3 linked regions of the Homo sapiens genome follow. The protein of the gene in region 1 interacts with the protein of each later gene in a biochemical or structural test. Each region holds a gene or a part of one and is shown in the gene's direction. Other genes may lie near its edges.

Region 1 (7,812 bases):
TGCAGCTCTGGGCTAGGACACAGCCTAGGGAACGTGACTGAGAAAGAGCCAAGAAAACACTCAGTGATGAAGTTGGTGTTTAAGTAAGATTTTCAGTGAAAAGTAGAATTGGGTACTACATGGAGGCTTGAGATGTTCAGAGCTTTTTGAGAAAGCAGAACAGAAAGTAGAAGGGCAACCAGGAACCAGAGGTGCCAGAGAACCGGAAGCGCGGGCCCTCCGAGGAGACAGGGAGTGGGCACCTGGATCTTGGGCCTGTCAACGAAGAGTCAAACTCAGTAAAATATTTGAAGAGATGTATTCTCAGCCAAATACGAGTGACCACGGCCTGTGACACAGCCCTCAGGAGGTCCTGAGAACATGTGCCCAAGGTGGTGGGGGTGCAGCTTGGTTTTATACATTTTAGAGGGGCATGGGCCATCAATCAAATACATTTAAGAAATACAGGAGCTGGGCGCGGTGGCTCACACCTGTAATCCCAGCACTTTGGGAGGCTGAGGCAGGTGGATCACGCGTTCAGGAATTCAAGACCACCCTTGCCAACATAGTGAAACCCCGTCTCTACTAAAAATACAAAAAATTACCCGGGTGTGGTGGTGTGCACCTGTAATCCCAGCTACTCGGGAGATTGAGGCAGAAGAATTGCATGAACCCAGGAGGCAGAGGTTGCAGTGAGCCAAGACCACACCACTGCACTCCAGCCTGTGGGACAGAGCAAGACTCTGTTCCAAAAAAAAAAAAAAAAAAAGAAAAGAAAAGGCCAGGCGTGGTGTCTCATGCCTGTAATCCCAGCACTTTGGGAGGCCAAGGCGGGCGGATCACGAGGTCAGGAGATGGAGCCCAGTCTGGCCAACATAGTGAAACCGCGTCTCTACTAAAAATACACAAAAAGTTAGCCGGGCGTGGTGGTGTGCACCTGTAAACTCAGCTAGTCAGGGGGCTGAGGCAGGAGAATCGCGTGAACCCGGGAGGCAGAGGTTGCAGTGAGCCAAGATTGCCCCACTGCACTCCAGCCTGGGCGACAGAGCAAGACACAATCTCAAAAAAAAAAAAAAAAAGAAAAGAAAAGAAAAAGAAAAAGAAAAAAGAAAAAAAGAAACAAAAAAAGTAAAGAAAAGAAATACATTGGTTTAGTCCTGAAAGGTCAGACGACTCAAAGTGAGGGAAGCGGGGTTGGGGGGCTTCCAGGCTACAGGTAAATTTAAACATTTTCTGGTTGAGGATGGGTTGAGTTTGTCTAGAGACCTGGCATCCATAGAAAGGAAATGTTCAAGTTAAGATAAAAGACTGTGGAGACCAAGGTTATTTTGAAGTCTCATAATGGCTGCCTTTAGAGATAATAGATGACAAATGTTTGCTATTCAGGTCTTTAAAAGGTCCAATTAGTTAATCTGTTTAGGACTGGGAAGGCCTAGAAGAAAAAGATCCAGCTATGTTAATAGAGGTTCTTTACAGATGCAAATTTTCCCCCACCGGGGACAACTTTGCAGGGCCATTTCAGATATGGCAAAGAAACATGTTTTGGGGTAAAATATTTTATCTTTCTTCTTTGTCACATAATGTTGTGTCTGAGTCAGATTGGAAAGTAACTCACAATATATAGGGTTAAATAAAACCCATTTGTGCCAGGCGCAGTGGCTCATGTCTGTAATCCCAGCACTTTGGGAGGCCGAGGCGGGTGGATCATCTGCAGTCGGGAGTTCGAGACCAGCCTGGCCAACATGGTGAAACCCCATCTCTACTAAAAATACAAAAATTAGCCAGGCATGGTGGCGGGGACCTATAATCCCAGCTACTTGGGAGGCTGAGACAGGAGAATCGCTTGAACCCGAGAGGCGGAGGTTGCAGTGAGCCGAGACCGCACCATTGCAGTCCAGTCCGGGCAAGAAGAGTGAAACTCGGCCTCCATTAAAATACAATAAGATAAAAAAATAAAAAATAGAACCCCTCTGATGAGGATGTATGGGTTGTAAGGCATGACTCCCCAGACCCCTTAGATAGGATTTTGGGCAAGATTAAATAAAACAAATCAGAGCTTAGTCCAAAGGCCTATGAACTAAAAATAAAGTCTTTAGCCCCCACCGATCCCCCCCAACTTTGGCCCCCAGTGGCCAGGGGTATCTCAGAAAAACCTTAAAACTGAGTTCCCAGCCATGATGGGAGGGGAGGTCAGGCACGCCTCATTATCACCCCACCCTTTTGCAGTTTAGACACAACTGACCAGCAGTAATGTTAAAACAGAATCATAAGACGGGCAGAACCAGAACAGACTCTTCATGGCAATCAGATACCAAATCACAACCAGGACCTCAGGCCGTGCCAGGCAAGGGTGAGATCACACACCCCACACTTAAACAGTCAACTCTGTTCTGCCTGCCACAAGATTTTTCTTTTGCTCTAGCAGCTAAACAAGCACTGCCTCCAGATAAAGATGAAAACAATCCCACCTCACCCAGCGCCCGGACACGGAGTAACAGAGCCCCTGCTCCACAGCCCTAATTCCTACTTTCCCTGAGCAAGAGACTGATTTCTGTAACTTTCTCCAGATCAGAAGACCACAGACCATGGACTAGTTCTGAATGGTTTACAGACCTGGCAAATTTTGGTGCCTTCATGTCCTGAAAGGACCTTTTGACATACAGGCTTAATTGTGGTACATTTAAATGTTGTCTCCACCGCAATGTGAGGACGGATAATACAGCTGCTTTTTTTTTTTTTTTTTTTTAATAGATTGTTGTTTGTTTGTTTTTTGTTTTGAGATGGAGTCTCACTCTGTCTCCCAGGCTGGAGGGCAGTGGTGCGATCTCGGCCCAGTGCAACCTCTGCCTCCCGGGTTCAACTGATTCTCCTGCCTCAGCCTCCCAAGTAGCTGGGATTTCAGGCACATGGCACCACGTCCGGCCAACTTTGGTAGTTTTAGTAGAGACGAGGTCTCACCATGTTGGCCAGGTTGGTCTCGAACTCCTGACTGTCATACATGTCCATATAGAAGACCACCTAAACAGGCTTTGTGTAAGCAATAATGCCATTTATTCACTTGGGTGCAACTGGGCTGAGTCTGAAAAGAGAGTCAGCGAAGGGAGATAGGAGAGGGGCAGCTTTATAGGACTTGGGTAGGCGGTGGAAAGTTACAGTCAAAGGCGGTCATCTGTTGTCAGCAGGGGAGGGGGTCACAAGGTGCATGGTGGGAGACCATGAGACCCATTGTCCAGAAGAAGAATGTCATAAGGTCGATTGATCAGTTAGGGTAGGGCAGGAACAAGTCCTAATGGTGGAATGTCTTAAGGTTGGTTAATCAGTTAAGGGAGAAACTGGCTGTTTCACTTCTTTTGTGTTTTTTTGGCTGTTCCAGACTTCTTGGCTGCTGCAGGCCATCTGGATGTATATGTGCAGTTCACAGGGGTCACAATGGCTTAGCTCTGGCTCAGCGGCCTGACACTGACCTCAGATGATCCACCTGCCTCGGCCTCCCAAAATGCTGGGATTACAGGTGTGAGCCACTGTGCCCGCCTGGGATCATATGTTACACGCATGTTTGTTCAATAAGCATGGAGTGCAGCCACCCACATGAATATTCATAGCTCCTCCTGTAGCCTGTTCAATATGTATGTTTAGCTAACCCCTTCAGCATAAAGCTCCTGCCCCAACCCCTCCTGCTTCTAAATGTCTGTCTCTGGTGTTAACCAGAGGCTGCTCTTCCCAGGCTGCTGGATGGCTACCTTGCAGGCTGTCACCCTTAACAAGAAATAAAGTGTCATTTGCAAATGCATCCCTTGTGTAATTTGTAGGTCACCACGCCATGGGAACACGCTACCAGGGGAAGGGAGCTGTGAGACGCGCAGGGAGGCTCCAGACAGGCTGGCCTGGGACACCAGCCGCTGCCCTTCCATAACATGGGGACAAGAGAGGGCAAAAGTTCAGCCCACCACGGAGGATCTCCGGGCAGGAGATGGGGAAGAAGGAGAAGCAGGAAGGAAAGAGCTCAGTGTGGGGGCGCGCATGGCATCCCGGTGGGACATCTGAGGCCCACACCCACCTGCTGTCCCTCCCTCCCACGGTGGCCTCCGAGGGTGACGGCCTGGGGGGAGGCAGACGCCTGGCCATTTACTCTCCCTCCCTGTCCCCATGGCCGCTGGGTGGGGGCCGTCTCTGGGATGATCCCCGAGGGCAGGATCCGGGAGTCCCTGCGGAGGCATCAGCCTGTCTGTCTTGATGGTGGAGAGGAGGCTCCAGCTGGGCGGGACCACCAGGGGAGGGGCTTGTGCTCTGCTGGCTCAGCCTGGTGTGGACCCACCTCCCGGGCGCTGGCTGCAATGACTTTCTCTTTCCCTTTGCAATTGCCTTGGGTCCTGCCGCACAGAGCGGCCTGTCTTTATCAGAGGTCCCTCTGCCAGGGGGAGGGCCCCAGAGAAAACCAGAAAGAGGGTGAGAGACTGAGGAAGATAAAGCGTCCCAGGGCCTCCTACACCAGCGCCTGAGCAGGAAGCGGGAGGGGCCATGACTACGAGGCCCTGGGAGGTCACTTTAGGGAGGGCTGTCCTAAAACCAGAAGCTTGGAGCAGAAAGTGAAACCCTGGTGCTCCAGACAAAGATCTTAGTCGGGACTAGCCGGCCAAGGATGAAGCCTCACTTCAGGTACCGCTGCCCGCTCTACCCACTGGGCCCCTCTGCTGCCCCTTCTTGCCTGGTGGCTCTGCTGGGCGTCAGCCCTGGCCTTCCCCTGCCCCAGCCCCAGCCCTGGGCTCCCTCCCCTCTGACTCCCCTGCACCCCCTACTCCCAGCCAGGCTCCTTGCCCTGCTGTGTTGTCGCCCCACTGCTGCTTCTGAATGGGCCGCCTCCCCCATCTGTCCCAGCCCAGGTCCCCTGCTGAGACTCTCCCCTGAAAGTCATGGCTGGGGTGGTGCTCCCGGCCCTGGGAGGGTGCTCCCTCTGTGTGCTTCCCGCCATTCCTGAACTCTGGAACTGGGAGAATTGAACCAAAGGATGAGTAGAGCAAGGTGGAATTTTGTTCACAGGGCTTTGATGGATTTTCTGTAAGATTTACTTTGCTTAAATACCAAGTCTTAGGAGAGGGTGTGGGGAGGGAATGGTCTCTGAAGCACAGGATAAATCATGTCTTCCAAGGATGTCTCCACTGTGGGCAGAGGAGGATGCAGATGACCCCAAACACACGCTCCTCCTCCACTATCAGCATTCACTGTTTATAAATGACACCAGTAACATGGAATATAGTGGCCGGGTGCGGTGGCTCACACCTGTCATCCCAGCACTTTGGGAGGCTGAGGTGGGCGGATCGCCTGCGGTCAGGAGTTCAAGACCAGCCTGACCAGCATGGATAAACCCTGTCTCTACTAAAAATGCAAAATTAGCTGGGTGTGGTGGCGGGCGCCTGTAATCGCAGCTACTTGGGAGTCTGAGACAGGAGAATCCATTGAACCCAGGAGGCGGAGTTTGCAGTGAGCTGAGGTCGCCCCATTGCACTCCAGCCTGGGCAACAAGAGCAAAACTTCGTCTTGAAAGAAAAAAAAACAAAAACAAAAGAAAAAACATGGAATATATGGGAAAAAAACTCAATGATCAGGAGGAATGTTGTTATTTTAAAATTTAGTAAGAAGAGAGCCCGGTCCCCAATGGCTGCCTCCTGCAGGGCCAGTGATACAGAGACTGGACAGGGCTGGCCTGGAAAGGGGCCCCCACTCCATTTGTCCCCAGCTCTGTGGCCTGGGCAGGTTACCCCGCCTCTCTGCGCGTCTGGCCCCTCCTCTGTAAGACGGGAATGGCCCCTGCCAGCCTAGGGCAGCCTCACATGAGCTCACCCCCGCGCAGCACTTAGAAGACTGGCCTGGGCCTCAGAATTCGGTTCTACCATGATTTAACAATAATAATATACAGAGGTGAAATGTCAGGAAGGAACTGAGCTGAAAGGTTAAAAGCTGTTATTTTGGGGTGAAGAGTTTTATTCTGTCTCTCTCTCTCTTTTTTTTTGAGACGGAATTTCGCTCTTGTCGCCCAGGCTGGAGTGTAGTGGCGCGATCTTGGCTCACTACAGTCTCCGCCGAAATTCTCAGGGGAGGGGAGGGATGGGGGAGGCCTAGAGCCGTCCAGGGGGCTGTGTTTAGTGGACATCAGCCCGGAGGGCCCCCAGGAGTGCTCTCTACATTGGCTGGTTTCTCTCTTGTGTCTTCAGAAACACAGTGGAGCGAATGTATCGAGACACATTCTCCTACAACTTTTATAATAGACCCATCCTTTCTCGTCGGAATACCGTCTGGCTGTGCTACGAAGTGAAAACAAAGGGTCCCTCAAGGCCCCCTTTGGACGCAAAGATCTTTCGAGGCCAGGTACCACCCGGACTCCAATCACTTTGCAGGCAGGAGCTAAGCCAGCTGGGAAAGCAAACCACGCACTGATAAGTGAAGTGCCCGGCGGCGGGCTATCCAGTGTGTCCTTCTCTCCCACACTTTCCAAGTCCGTGGCCCTGACCTTCCTGCTGGACCGTCCTGGGATCGGATCGTGGAGGGGGTTTGCCTCTGCACAAAAGGCCTTGTGTTTCCGTTTTTCTTTTCTTTTCTTTTTTCTTTTTTTTTTTTGAGACAGAGTTTCACTCTTGTTGCTCAGGCTGGAGTGCAATGACGCGATCTCGGCTCACAGCAACCTCTGCCTCCTGGGTTCAAGCGATGCTGTCGCCTCAGACTCGCAAGTAGCTGCGATTACAGGTGCCCACCACCACGCCCAGCTGATTTTTTTTTTGTATTTTTAGTACAGATGGGGTTTCACCATATTCACCAGGCTGGTCTCGAACTTCTGACCTCAGGTGATCCACCTGCCTCGGCCTCCCAAAGTGTTGGGATTACAGGTGTGAGCCACAGCGCCGGCCTAATTTTAATATTTAATTAATCCAATGTGGCTAACATATTACTTCAACATTAATTAACATAAAATTCTTGACAAGATAATGAAGTTTCTTTTTCTTGTCACACCGAGTCTTTGAAATGAGCTGCGTGGGTCACGTACAGTGGGTGGCTCGCACCTCTAATCCCAGCACTTTGGGAGGCCAAGGCGGGCAGATCACCTGAAGTTAGATATTCAAAACCGGCCTGGGCAACATGGTGAAATCCCATCTCTACTAAAAATACAAAAAAAAAAAAAATTAGCCAGGCATGGTGGCAGTCACCTGTAATCCCAGCTACTCGGGAGGCTGAGGCAGGAGAACCGCTTGATCCCATGAGGCAGAGGTTGTAGTGAGCCAAGATTGCATCCTTGCATTCCAGCCTGGGCAACAAGAGCGAAACTCCATCTCAAAAAAAAAAAAAGAAATGAGTGGTGTATTTTTCAGGTGCCCAGGTCTCTAATCAGAGCCCCATTTCAAGTACTCAGTAGTCCCTTGGCCATGTCACCCCCCCCGACATGGACAGTGCAGGTCCAGTGGGCTCCCCACTGACTGCAGGCAGGGAACAAGGCAGACCCTAGAGGGCCAGGCCACAGTAGGGGCTGAGGATGTCTGGTGAATGGATGCCTGGGAGAATGGATGCTAGAATTCACACACGAGGCCATGAACAGGGCTGGGAAAACTTCCAAACTCAGGGAAGCACGTGTCTTGGTGCACCTTGTGATGCTTCAACAGCAGGACTGAGATGGGGACATTTACAATGAACAGAAATGTATGGGCTCGAGTTCTGGACTCTGGGAAGTCCCCTGTCAATGCACCAGCAACTTTCCAGGGCCTGCGAGCTGCACAGTCACGTGGGGGTGAAGGTTGTTGCCAGAAGCTCAGGGGATGCTCCAGACAGAGTGGCCTGGGATGTCGAGTC
Region 2 (3,224 bases), on another chromosome or scaffold:
ACAATTAGCTGGTTTTATTACCGAGCAAAGCAAACCCCTTGAATATTTGCAGGTGCCAGCAAGTGACTGCAAATCTGTAGTGGGTTTTCAGCTCTGTGTCTATGGACTTGAAGCTACAGTTGTTTTACATTGTCTTACTTGTAGTAAACAGCAGCATTCAGTTGGCATCAGTAGTTATTAATACACTGAGTTTCCTGTGACATCCCACTTTTCTTAATTCTCTATCAGGCCTGCTCTGAGATCTTGTTATTTGTAATGCTTTATCAGTACCTCCTACGGTTGCCTCTGACAGCGTTTCTAGCACAGATGATCAGTCACATGTTTCAACATTCCTTAGTGAGGTTAGATTAGGTTCAGTTTCCCCACAGTGTGCTTTTTGCTGCTCGTTAATATGTGCCTTGAGAACACTGGGAAGCCGTTCATTTTTAAATGCTTTGAGTATACTGGGCATCATCTCATAGGTGCCTTACTCCAACAGGGCCCTTCTGTTAGGGCCTGGTTTAAAATACTGCAAGTATTTTTTTGATTGTATATGTGTCGAGTTCCATCTCTCCTTGTTCTGCATCACCTTGAGAGATAAGTTAACTCGGTTGATCCTGTAGTTGGTGGTATTGCTATAGGAAAATAGAGACCACAGTATCCTTTTGGATGTATTCACAACCCTGACCGCACACTCAGATGACCTCGGGCACATGCCTTTAGAAAATCCAGATGCTTGGGCTTCACCCAACAATAACTGAAGCAACATCCCTGGTTGGGGGGACTCAGCGTCCATGTAGTTGAATGTACCCCCACCCCAGGTGAGTCTGAAGTGCTACCTGGATTGAGGGCTACGGCTTTATGGAGTTCTTGAGGGTATATAGTTTTGCTTTTTAAAAAATAACCAAAAGAAGATTCCCATTACAATTTGATGCAGGAACAGGGGTAGGGGGGCAGGGAAAATCATTCCCCATCCTTTTGCCCTATAACAGAGTTTCTCAACCTTGACGCTATTGACATTTTGAATCAGTTGGGGGCTGTCCTGTGTACTCTGGGATTTTTAGAAGCATCCTTGGCCTCTCCCATTAGATGCCAGTAGCACCCTTCCTCAAGTTTTGGCAACCAAAAATGTCTCCAGACACTGCCAAATGTCCCCTGAGGAGCAAAATGATCTCCTCCTCCTTTCCTTCCCTGAGCCTCCTCCCAGTTGTGAACCACTGTCCTAAAATGTAAACTGTTGGGTGTTCCCTAAGCAAGGTTTGTGCTAGCTAGTTCACTTTTCACTTATGAATTGAAGCATTGGAATAGCTCTGAATACAGGATGTAAAAACAAACACGACTTCACATACTCTTAGGATTCACTGTGAGCTCATTATTTTTGAGTACCTTAATTTGCTCAAGTTATAAAATAAAAATGTTTGCATCTAGAAATATGCCCTTATTTTTAAAGATAAAAGAACACCATTAAACATAAATTTTATTTGTATTATTGGAATTTTTGTATAGCTGTGTAATTCCCAAGTTAGCTTATTTAAGCCTCCATTAGTGAGGCTAAGCTTTAAATTTCTTTCACTCTGTTCTAAATTAAAAACCTAACAAGCTTATTTCAATTAGCTACCGGAAAAGAGAGAACATAGCCTAAAAATGCCTTCTACAAAAAAACCCCAGAAAATGGTCTTAAATAGTTCAATATTATTTCCTTATAACAATGTTCTATCTTGGATGCTTTTTTTTTTTAAAAAAAAGGAGTCTTAGATCAATAGCACCATTGTATGACTTGTCTTATGATCTTTCTCCAGGGCCCCCTTCTTTGATGCAGTTATGCCGCCTTAGAATTCGGAAGTGTTTTGGAATCCAGCAGCATCATAAGATAACCAAACTCGTCCTCCCAGAGGATCTGAAACAGTTTCTCCTACATCTTTAAATGCATCTAGGGAATGGATTCACAAACGATGTGAAAACATTATTGAGTGTTGTAGCCACTAGAATTTTAAAATCAAGTTGGATTTATAGAGTTTGACTAGTTTTTTCGATTAGATTTGTATTTGTTATAAACTTGTTTATGGAGTTTGACTAATTTTTTCTATTCAATTTGTATTTGTTAAACTCAAGCCAGGGTTGAAAGACACTGCATACGTTTGTATTATTAGTTAGAAGGCATGAAGACTTTTTTCCCTGCATGGAGAGTGTCATAAGTTATTGTTTTGCATATCTACTGCATGCCAAGCACTTTCTGCATCATCTAATTTAGCCCTCACAGCCACTGGGTCAAGATGTCCAATTTTCCAGAGTAAGGATAGAGGAGTCAAATTCAAATACAGGTTTTCTGACATTAACTTATGTGATGACTTGATCGAGGCAGGCTTTTCCAGCATCACTGTCCTGGTTCCATCTCTGCTATATGGGAATGAAAATAAAGAAACATATTTCTTGGCTTGTCTAATTTGTTTTAAGCTTCCCTGTTGTTACAACAAAACCACTACTGTCCTAGCATAGTGTGGGCGCCAGTTCTTTTTTTCAACCAAAACACTATACATATTAAGCATATTCTAGAACCTTGCTGCTTAATACAGTAGCAACTAGTTCAGTGGTTCTCCACTGGGGTTAATTTTGTTACCCAGTGATGTTTAACAATAACTGGAGACATTTTGTTTGTGACAACTGAGGAGGGGTGCTACAGGCATGTAGTGGGTAGAGGTCTGGAATGCTGCAAAGCCTCTTACAATGTACAGGACAGCCCCACCGCAAAGAACTTTCCAGTCCAAACTGTTAATACTGTAGTGCCCAGGTTGAGAAACCCTGCTGTAGCCATGTGCCTATTTAGAAGTGTAAATTAATTAAAATTAGGTAAAATTAAAAATCCAGTTTCTCAGTGTCATTAGCCACATTTCAGGTATAAAATATGCACAAATGGCTAGTGGCTACTGTATTGAACAGTGCAGGTACAGATTATTGCAGAAGAAAGTTCCATTGCCCCATTGAACAGATTTCTATTGGACTGTGCTCTTTGGAGGCTCGAGGAATGGATTTTTAACTGCCTTTCAGTTTCAGATTTACAGGAACACTGGTATAATTTAGTAATGATGGCTGTAGTTTCAGTTATCTCTCTGAGAGATGAATTTGGGGCTCCATTGCATCAATCGAAAGAAAATTGTAACTCCTTAAGTCAAATCCTTACCTGTAAGATTACATATGGTCTAGATGATCTCTAAATCTATTTCCAATATAATTTTTCTGTAATTTTT
Region 3 (7,627 bases), on another chromosome or scaffold:
AAGCCCATTAAATGGGGACTAGAACAGACTGGCTTTATGCTGAATGATGCTTTACAGGGAGATACAGAACTCAACAAGATTACAAGAAGTAAGAAGTAATTATACTTCAGAATTAGCATGAGCTTCTTATCCATGGAAGGCACTGTGTGTTGGGTTATATAATTGTGTATGACAGTGGTTCTTACACTTTTTGATCTTAGGACCCCTTTACACTCTTAAAAATTGTTGAGCACCTGAAGAGCCTTCGTGTAGCTTATATCTGTTGATGATGTTTATTAGAAATTAAAACTGAGAAAAACTTAAAATATGTATTTATTAATATGCTTACAAATAATAATAGACCCACACCCATAACATAAATTGACAGTTTATGTAAAATGTTTTTCAAAACAAAAATTTAGTGGGAAGAATGGCATTATTTTGCCTTTTTGTAACTCTTTGTTCAGCTTTATAGAAGACAGCTGGATTCTTACATTGCTTCTGCATTCAGTCTCTTGAGATGTCACATCATGCAGCCTCAGGAACACCCCACTGCATGCTTGTGAGAGAATGACTGTAAACAAAAGTAACATCTTAAATATTATGTATGAAAATTGTTTTGACCTTCTGGATCCCCTGAATGGGTCCTGGAAACTTTCAGGGGTCCAGGACCACACTTTGAGAACCCACTTGTGTAAGCTATAGTTAACAGTTAAGGATACCTGCTCATATCAAAATAACTTTAAAAAATTAGAGAAATCCTTAAGGCTACCAACGTTTATGTTTCTGTAGAGACCTGAGGTTTTTGAAATGTATTAGCTGGGAAATAGAGCATGGGCTCTAGTAGTCCTTTGCTGCCAAAAAAGTTAACAGTCTAATCTAGCTGGGGGAGAGACAGGAAGCTAACTAGTTAGAAGATACATCCATGTGGTTTAAGGTAAATGTTGAAAATAGCTATCTCCTAATAACGTAAAGGCTGATTTATGTCTAATTGTTGCTTAAGGGATTCTAGTTTAAAATGAAAAAGTTTTAAATAAAAGGGCATTCTCTCAAGCTTTTTGTTATGTGCACATACCAGATGTTATTTTCAGAAGTTGGAGGCTTGGGCATTCCTTATTTTTGTGGGTAAAAGAGTTTAACCAGTGGGAAAAAACAAAAATTGTTTAAAAAGATGCCCTGAATGCAAGTGTTTTGATAACTAAGGAAAGCCAAGGACCAAGCATTTGAACTTGAGGGTTTGGGTTAAACAGCCAGTTAAATTAGAGATATTTAGTAGGATAGGCATGCTAATTTTTCCCTGATTAATTCTTCAATGAGTTGAGAGTGCCTCTTTAAGTTTTCAGTACACACTTGCCTTCATATTACTCTACCCAAGAAAAGTAAGTGTAGATCAAGTAAATGTTCTGCAATTTTGCACCAAAAACTGCAGATAATTCCACCCAAAATACTGGAGATAAACCCTTTTTTAAGAGATCCATTCAGTAGGATGAGGTGTTGATTATTGGTTGTCAGTGGTAATAAATTTGTAATGGACTGATCAGGTTGTGATAAAGAGAAGAAATCAACCTTGATGGAGTGATGGGTTATTTTGTATCGTATTTCTCCACAACCTACATTTAACACTCGTTTGCCCAGTGGACTAAATTTTCTAAATACAATCAGTCATTTCCTTGTCATTAGGTCAAATGCTTTTACTGCTTTTTAGTAACATTCTATGATGTCTTTATTAAGTGCCTAATACTTAATAGAGCAATTAGTAAATATTTGCCTGATAAATAAAGGAACTATCACTTAGATGTGTCTGGCAGGGTCTTTATGTTGAAAATAAACGCAGAGTGAACTTTCCCCAGAATGCTTTCACTAGCCCGCACTCCCAGTATTTTAGTCAGTAAACGTTGGCTGGATTGTGAGCAAATGACCATCTGCAGTGTTGTTATCACAATGAATTTGTGTTCTTTTGGCAGTCTGTATTTATAGATGGGCAGGTGGACAATTTAGTTGTAAATGTGGATGGGGTAGTTAAAAATCAGTGGACAGGTGATACTTTTTTCACATTAATTCTAAAAAGTAGTATTTGAGTTTTATATATCCTTCTGAAGAATTTAAACTTTTTTGGTAATATTTATAAAGCTTAAGTCAAATGTCTTTCTAGTCTTTCTGCAGTATTCCTCCCCAACCCCGTCCCCCAGAATCTTAGAGCAATCTCAGCTTATTTCTAGAGTCTCTAAATGATTGCTCATGGATGTGAAATGTGTGAAATTTAGAATGTGCTCCATGTATGTGTTTTGTTTAAAGAAGCTTCAGTATAGAGATTGAGCCTAACATTTACTTGTTGTGAAGAAGTTTTGACACATTGATGAGAAGTTCTTTCCCTAATAATATGCTTAATAGTGTATACAGAACATCCTTCATGGTCTAAGCAGAAGAAATGATGGAGTTGGGGGAAGAATTCGAACTCTTTGGTGTGGTTTCCTGTTATTTATCCTCAAAATAATTTATTCTCATTCTTTGCTTGTACACCATTAGCCTTAGGCTCGTGTAACAGCCTCCTTTTTCCTCATTGAAATGTATGTAATTTCCTTCTCCACTGGAATATAAAAGATTGATTTTGGATCCTTCAAGCTAGATTTAGAAATACTTATGTTTTTATAGTGTTTGCAGCTCAGTGAGTAGACCAGTGAGTAATTTAGTGTGTAGCTCAGTGAGTCATTTAAATTCCTGTTTTAAAATTTGAGTCCCTCTTCCATCAGGAGCTGATTAACATGTACATTTCCCCTAACCTAACCTGCTCGTTTTTTTTCTTTTTGAGCTTTTCTCCCCTTCTTGAGCTTGTTTGTTTGTTTTTAATATTTTTCCTTCTTTGAAAACAAAATGTTAGTCTCCTTTGATTAAGCTGCAGTCTCTGACCTACATACATACAGGTTTGTGTTCAACCAAGGCATTGAAATAAATAGATTTAGTCGGTAGATTATCATTGTTTGAAGTGGAAAAGGTATGCTGTTTAACATATTTTGATATTTTATGTTTATTCATTGCCTCTTTAGACAGGAGAGCAATTGCATTCTAGGTGTGTTAATAGAGCTTTCCTGGACAGATGGCTTGGAAGGAAGTACTTTGATGGGTTCTCAGTAGGGGCTAGTACTTTTTGGAGGGTGTGTTTGTGATTAAGCTTACCTTGATTGACAGTTTAGAATGCTGAGAATAGCATTAACAACAGTAACAGCTTGTTCATCTTACCTAGAATTGTCTTGTGCCAAGACCCCTCAAGATGCTCTGAGATTTCTGTGTAGTGGTTTCTTTTGAGAATGTAGGTAAGAATAGGTGTCCTTGAGACTGAAAAGAAATTCACCTAAAATTGTTCATTGTGGTTGTATCTTAAAATCTTTGGGGTCGTTGAATGAACTTTGGCTTAGAAATTTGTAGAGATCGTCTTTTTAACTGCTGTGAGTCTGCAGATGTGATTATCTATAGTAATTCCAGATGTTTTCTCATCTATTAGTTTTACTGAGTAGGAAGATAACTGAGAACAACATAAAGTAACTTCAAAGCAGTTTGCTAGCATTTAATCCTGACTAATTTAATTAATTATTCATCCTTGTAGTTTTTCCTATTTTATTGATTATGAAACTGAGACAAAGGTTACGAGTTGCCCAAGATGCTTGGGGAGTATTAAAGATAGCCCAAAGCTTAAACTCTAACACTGTTCAGACTTTTAGCTTGCTTTTTCTTAAAAAAAAAAAAAAAAGAGTCTTTATTTTGTTATTCAGTAACTTAATGCTTGACAATTTAAAAAATACAAAATGTTTGGAACACATACTTTAAATAATTCCTTTGAAGATTTTTGATATGAAAATATATTTTAAGTTCCACATCTCAAAAATTACTTATTTTAAAATTTGGTCTTTTGTTACCCCCCTCACCCAATTTAATATTGAAAGTGCTGGCAAGTTGGAACAAGGAATTGGTGATATAGTTTGGAAGAAACAACTATTTTAAATGTCAACCTTGTTATACTCAGATCTAATATTTTTATAGGCCGAAATTCATATTGCATTAGTTCAGACATAATAAACCAGCCTCCTCACTATAGCTATGGATAAAATGCAATTAGCTTTTGGTTATTTTTAAAATGGGTTTCAGTTATTGAAGTCTCTCCACCCCCCTTATTTTTTCATTTTGTTTCTGTTAGAGAAGATTCTTCTTGGAGGTGGTTTGTTGTAGGGTGGAGGAAGGAGAGAATTCTTAAGGTATAGAATTTTGCATTTGCTTCTGGTAGCTCAGAGATTATTTGAAATCTTTGCTTTTAGTCAGTATACTTTGTTGATTCCATTTAGTTATTCTAAGATTTTCCAATTGTATTTCCTGTAAAAGTTATAGTCTTTAGACCATAAAAACTAAAACTAGTAACTGCAGATCTTTTTTTTTTTTTTTTTTTTTGAGATGGAGTCTCACCCTGTTCCCCAGGCTGGAGTGTGATGGCACGATCTTGTCTCACTGCAACCTCCGCCTCTCGGGCTCAAGTAATTCTTTGCCTCAGCCTCCTGAGTGGCTGGGATTACAGACGCACACCACCATACCCGGCTAATTTTTTGTATCTTTAGTAGAGTCAGGGTTTCACTCAAATTCCTGACCTCGTGATCCTCCTGCCTTGGCCTCCCAAAGTGCTGGGATTACATGTGTGAGCCTCCGTGCCTAGCCAGTAACTGCAGATCTTAAAACAGATTTCCCCTCTTCTTCTTCTTCCTCTTCTTCCTCTTCTTCTTCCTCCTCTTCTTCTTCTTCCTCTTCTTCCTCTTCCTCCTCTTCCTCCTCTTCCTCTTCTTCTTCTTTCTTCTTTCTTCTTTCTTTTTCTTCTTTCTTCCTTCTTCTTCTTTCTTCTTTCTTTTTCTTTCTTCTTTCTTCCTTCTTTTTCTTTCTTCTTTCTTCTTCTTCGGAATCTCACTCTTTGGCCAGGCTGGAGTGCAGTGGCACGATCTCAGCTCACCGAAACCTCCACTCCCAGGTTCAAGTGATTCTCCTGCTTCAGCCTCCCAAGTAGTTGGAATTACAGGCAGCCACCACCATGCCTGGCTAATTTTTGTGTTTTTAGTAGAGACGGGGTTTCACTGTGTTGGCCAGGCTGGTCTTGAACTCCTGACCTTGTGATCCACCTGCCTCGGCCTCCCAAAATACTGGGATTACAGGTGTGAGCCACTGCACCAGGCCTCCCCCTTTCTTAAGATACAAGGAAGTGTATCTTTTCAGTGTGTGCTCTTTATGGATGTATACAATGCAGATGAATTTAGGAAGGCAATTTCAGATTTTGAAAACTGTTGAAATTAAACTTGAACATTGAAAAATCAAATTTGCAGTTGTCTTAAGTGTTTGCATTAGTTAGATGCTTCACAATTAATAAATACTAGCTAATATAATTTTATAAGACCCTTTGAAGAGGGAATTGTGAGTTTATTTTTAAGATAAGCCAGGTTATATCAAAGATATTGTAACCAACTAGATTTTATTTGGAGACTTTGTACTCTGCTTTAGAATCCAGTAGCTCTATCAGTGTGAGCTGTTTCCATTCTTGAGTAGAAGTTTTCTCCTGTTATTTTTTCTTTGTTCTAGCTGGGTTTAAGACAGCCTTCTTTGTAGAAATTGTTGGCCTGTTTATCCTTCACCCACCCTGAAGACACTTAATTTTATGGACTGTTCTTGTACTGCCTCATCACCAGAAAAAGCAGGCTGGAAATTAACTGTCATATTCCCGCAGGTTTAATTTAACTGATTATAAGAAAGTACAGTTATTGTTCTACCTTCTTTAAATCTTTGTCCTTGATGACCAAGCTCAGGTTTTTATTTTTGCTTATTTATTTATTTTTTGGAAATGGAGTCTCACTCTGTCACCCAGTCTGGAGTGCAGTGGTGCAGTCATAGCTCGTTACAGCCTGGAACTCGCGGGCTTAAGTGATCCTTCCACTTCAGCCTCCCAAGTAGCTGGGACTCCAGGCATGTGCCACCACGCTCAGCTAATTTTTAAATTTTTTTGTAGAGATAGGGTCTCGATGTTACCCAGGTCTTGAACTTCTGACTCTGAGTGATCTTTCCACCTCAGCCTCCCAAAGTGCTGGGATTACAGATATGAGCCACCAGTCTGGGTGGGTTTTCTTTTTTAAATAATAGATTTAAATTGTTCATTACTTTGTTTTGAACATTTGTTGCACAATGCCGGAGTAATATTTTGATTAAAGTTTTTGAATATCAAGTTGAAATTTCTAGAAAACAAATTTCTGACTTGGAATGTTTCCCTGAGATAATCGATGGATGACATGTTAGAAAAATGTTCTACTATATTAGGCATTTAAAAAATAACTGTATAATATAGAGACTGTGGGAGCAACAATGGTACAAATTGCTGGTTGAGCAAATTTTAATTTTAGTTGCACACAGTAAAATGTTCTTTGGTTTCATTAAGATTAACTCTTATTTCCATGTGAATTATTTTGGATATTAATAGTGAGATGCTTTAGCATTGGAGAAATTGCTTTATAAAAACTGAAGGATCAGACTTCACCTTAAGTGTATGAAGTAGCTGCCAGACCTCAACATTCGTGCCATGAGAATTTAATTCTGAGAGCTTAAATGCGTTAGTTTCATTTTATTTGCTTTGAATGTTTTGTTTATATATAGTTTTTTTTAGAGCCTCATTTAAAAAATATATGTATTTCTAGTTTTTTTCTTCGAATATATAATACAGATTTTTGGGAAAATGTGGGTCATGTTTGAAAATTCTATCGATTGTAAAAAAAAATTCCGACTCTTGGTTTTGGTTAAATAATTAGAACAGCTATTTAGAAAAACTGAAATAGTTAATGGTTTTGGAGTTTGCAGGTGCCTGTTTTCTGAAATATTGATTATCTATCCCTCGGGCAGAGTATACGTATTTGCCAAGTTTGTATTTCTTTTTTCTATTTCTTCAAAATAAGTCCCGTTGATTTTAAAAGAATAAAGAGTTTCCCAGTAAGTACAAGTGTGGTACTTTTTCCCCCTCCACTTTGTACTTTAGTGTTAACCTTTATTACATAACCACAGAGAATGAGGAAGAGAATTGTACAATGCAGATATTAAGCCTATTGTTCTCCAAGGAAAGTCTTTGATGTTAAGAGGTCCCTAAACCTCTTAATTATTTTATTTACTTGTGAGAGGGGGTGCTTCCTTAAATATATACGAGTCTTTTCTTATATTGCATACACTTGCAACTATTATTTTGAAATAATAGTTGAGTGGTGTTTACATTTATGACCTGATTCATGTCTTTTGAAGTGCCACCACTGTTTCACCATGGACTTGCTTACTCAGGTTGTTGGCAACAGCATGGAATTGCATCAGATCTTGCTGTATTAAATAAATGAAGATATTAGATGTCAGAATTTTTAAGTAGTTCATGGCTTTTGTTTTTATTTTCTATATGATCAGCTTCATAGGGAAAGTTATTTTTGAAACAATTTGAGCTCCTAATAATTTTTTGAAGCTATTTGTGTCTGGTCTTCCAAAGGCAAAAATGGCCCATTTTGACTCTGATTTAGTAATCTCCTTTGGCTTTAGTGGTTTTTATCCTTCCTCCCACTATCCTTTCCCCTCGTTTAGAGGTAGGAGGAGCCCAGTTCCAGTA

What was found.
Region 2: of the proteins of APOBEC3G (region 1) and ASB9, one has a biochemical effect on the other in vitro, tested with the Homo sapiens proteins (one study listed by BioGRID).
Region 3: of the proteins of APOBEC3G (region 1) and USP3, one has a biochemical effect on the other in vitro, tested with the Homo sapiens proteins (one study listed by BioGRID).

Annotation. Positions count from the first base shown.
Region 1 is NC_000022.11:39,072,744-39,080,555, forward strand, and holds the start of APOBEC3G (DNA dC->dU-editing enzyme APOBEC-3G), read left to right. Parts: upstream 1-4,531; 5' UTR 4,532-4,618; coding exon 4,619-4,635; intron 4,636-6,188; coding exon 6,189-6,342; intron 6,343-7,812.
Region 2 is NC_000023.11:15,243,185-15,246,408, reverse strand, and holds the end of ASB9 (ankyrin repeat and SOCS box protein 9), read left to right. Parts: intron 1-1,778; coding exon 1,779-1,903; 3' UTR 1,904-2,422; downstream 2,423-3,224. UniProt on the Homo sapiens protein: Substrate-recognition component of a cullin-5-RING E3 ubiquitin-protein ligase complex (ECS complex, also named CRL5 complex), which mediates the ubiquitination and subsequent proteasomal degradation of target proteins.
Region 3 is NC_000015.10:63,507,559-63,515,185, forward strand, and holds part of USP3 (ubiquitin carboxyl-terminal hydrolase 3), read left to right. Parts: intron 1-4,417; exon of another isoform or gene 4,418-7,627. UniProt on the Homo sapiens protein: Deubiquitinase that plays a role in several cellular processes including transcriptional regulation, cell cycle progression or innate immunity.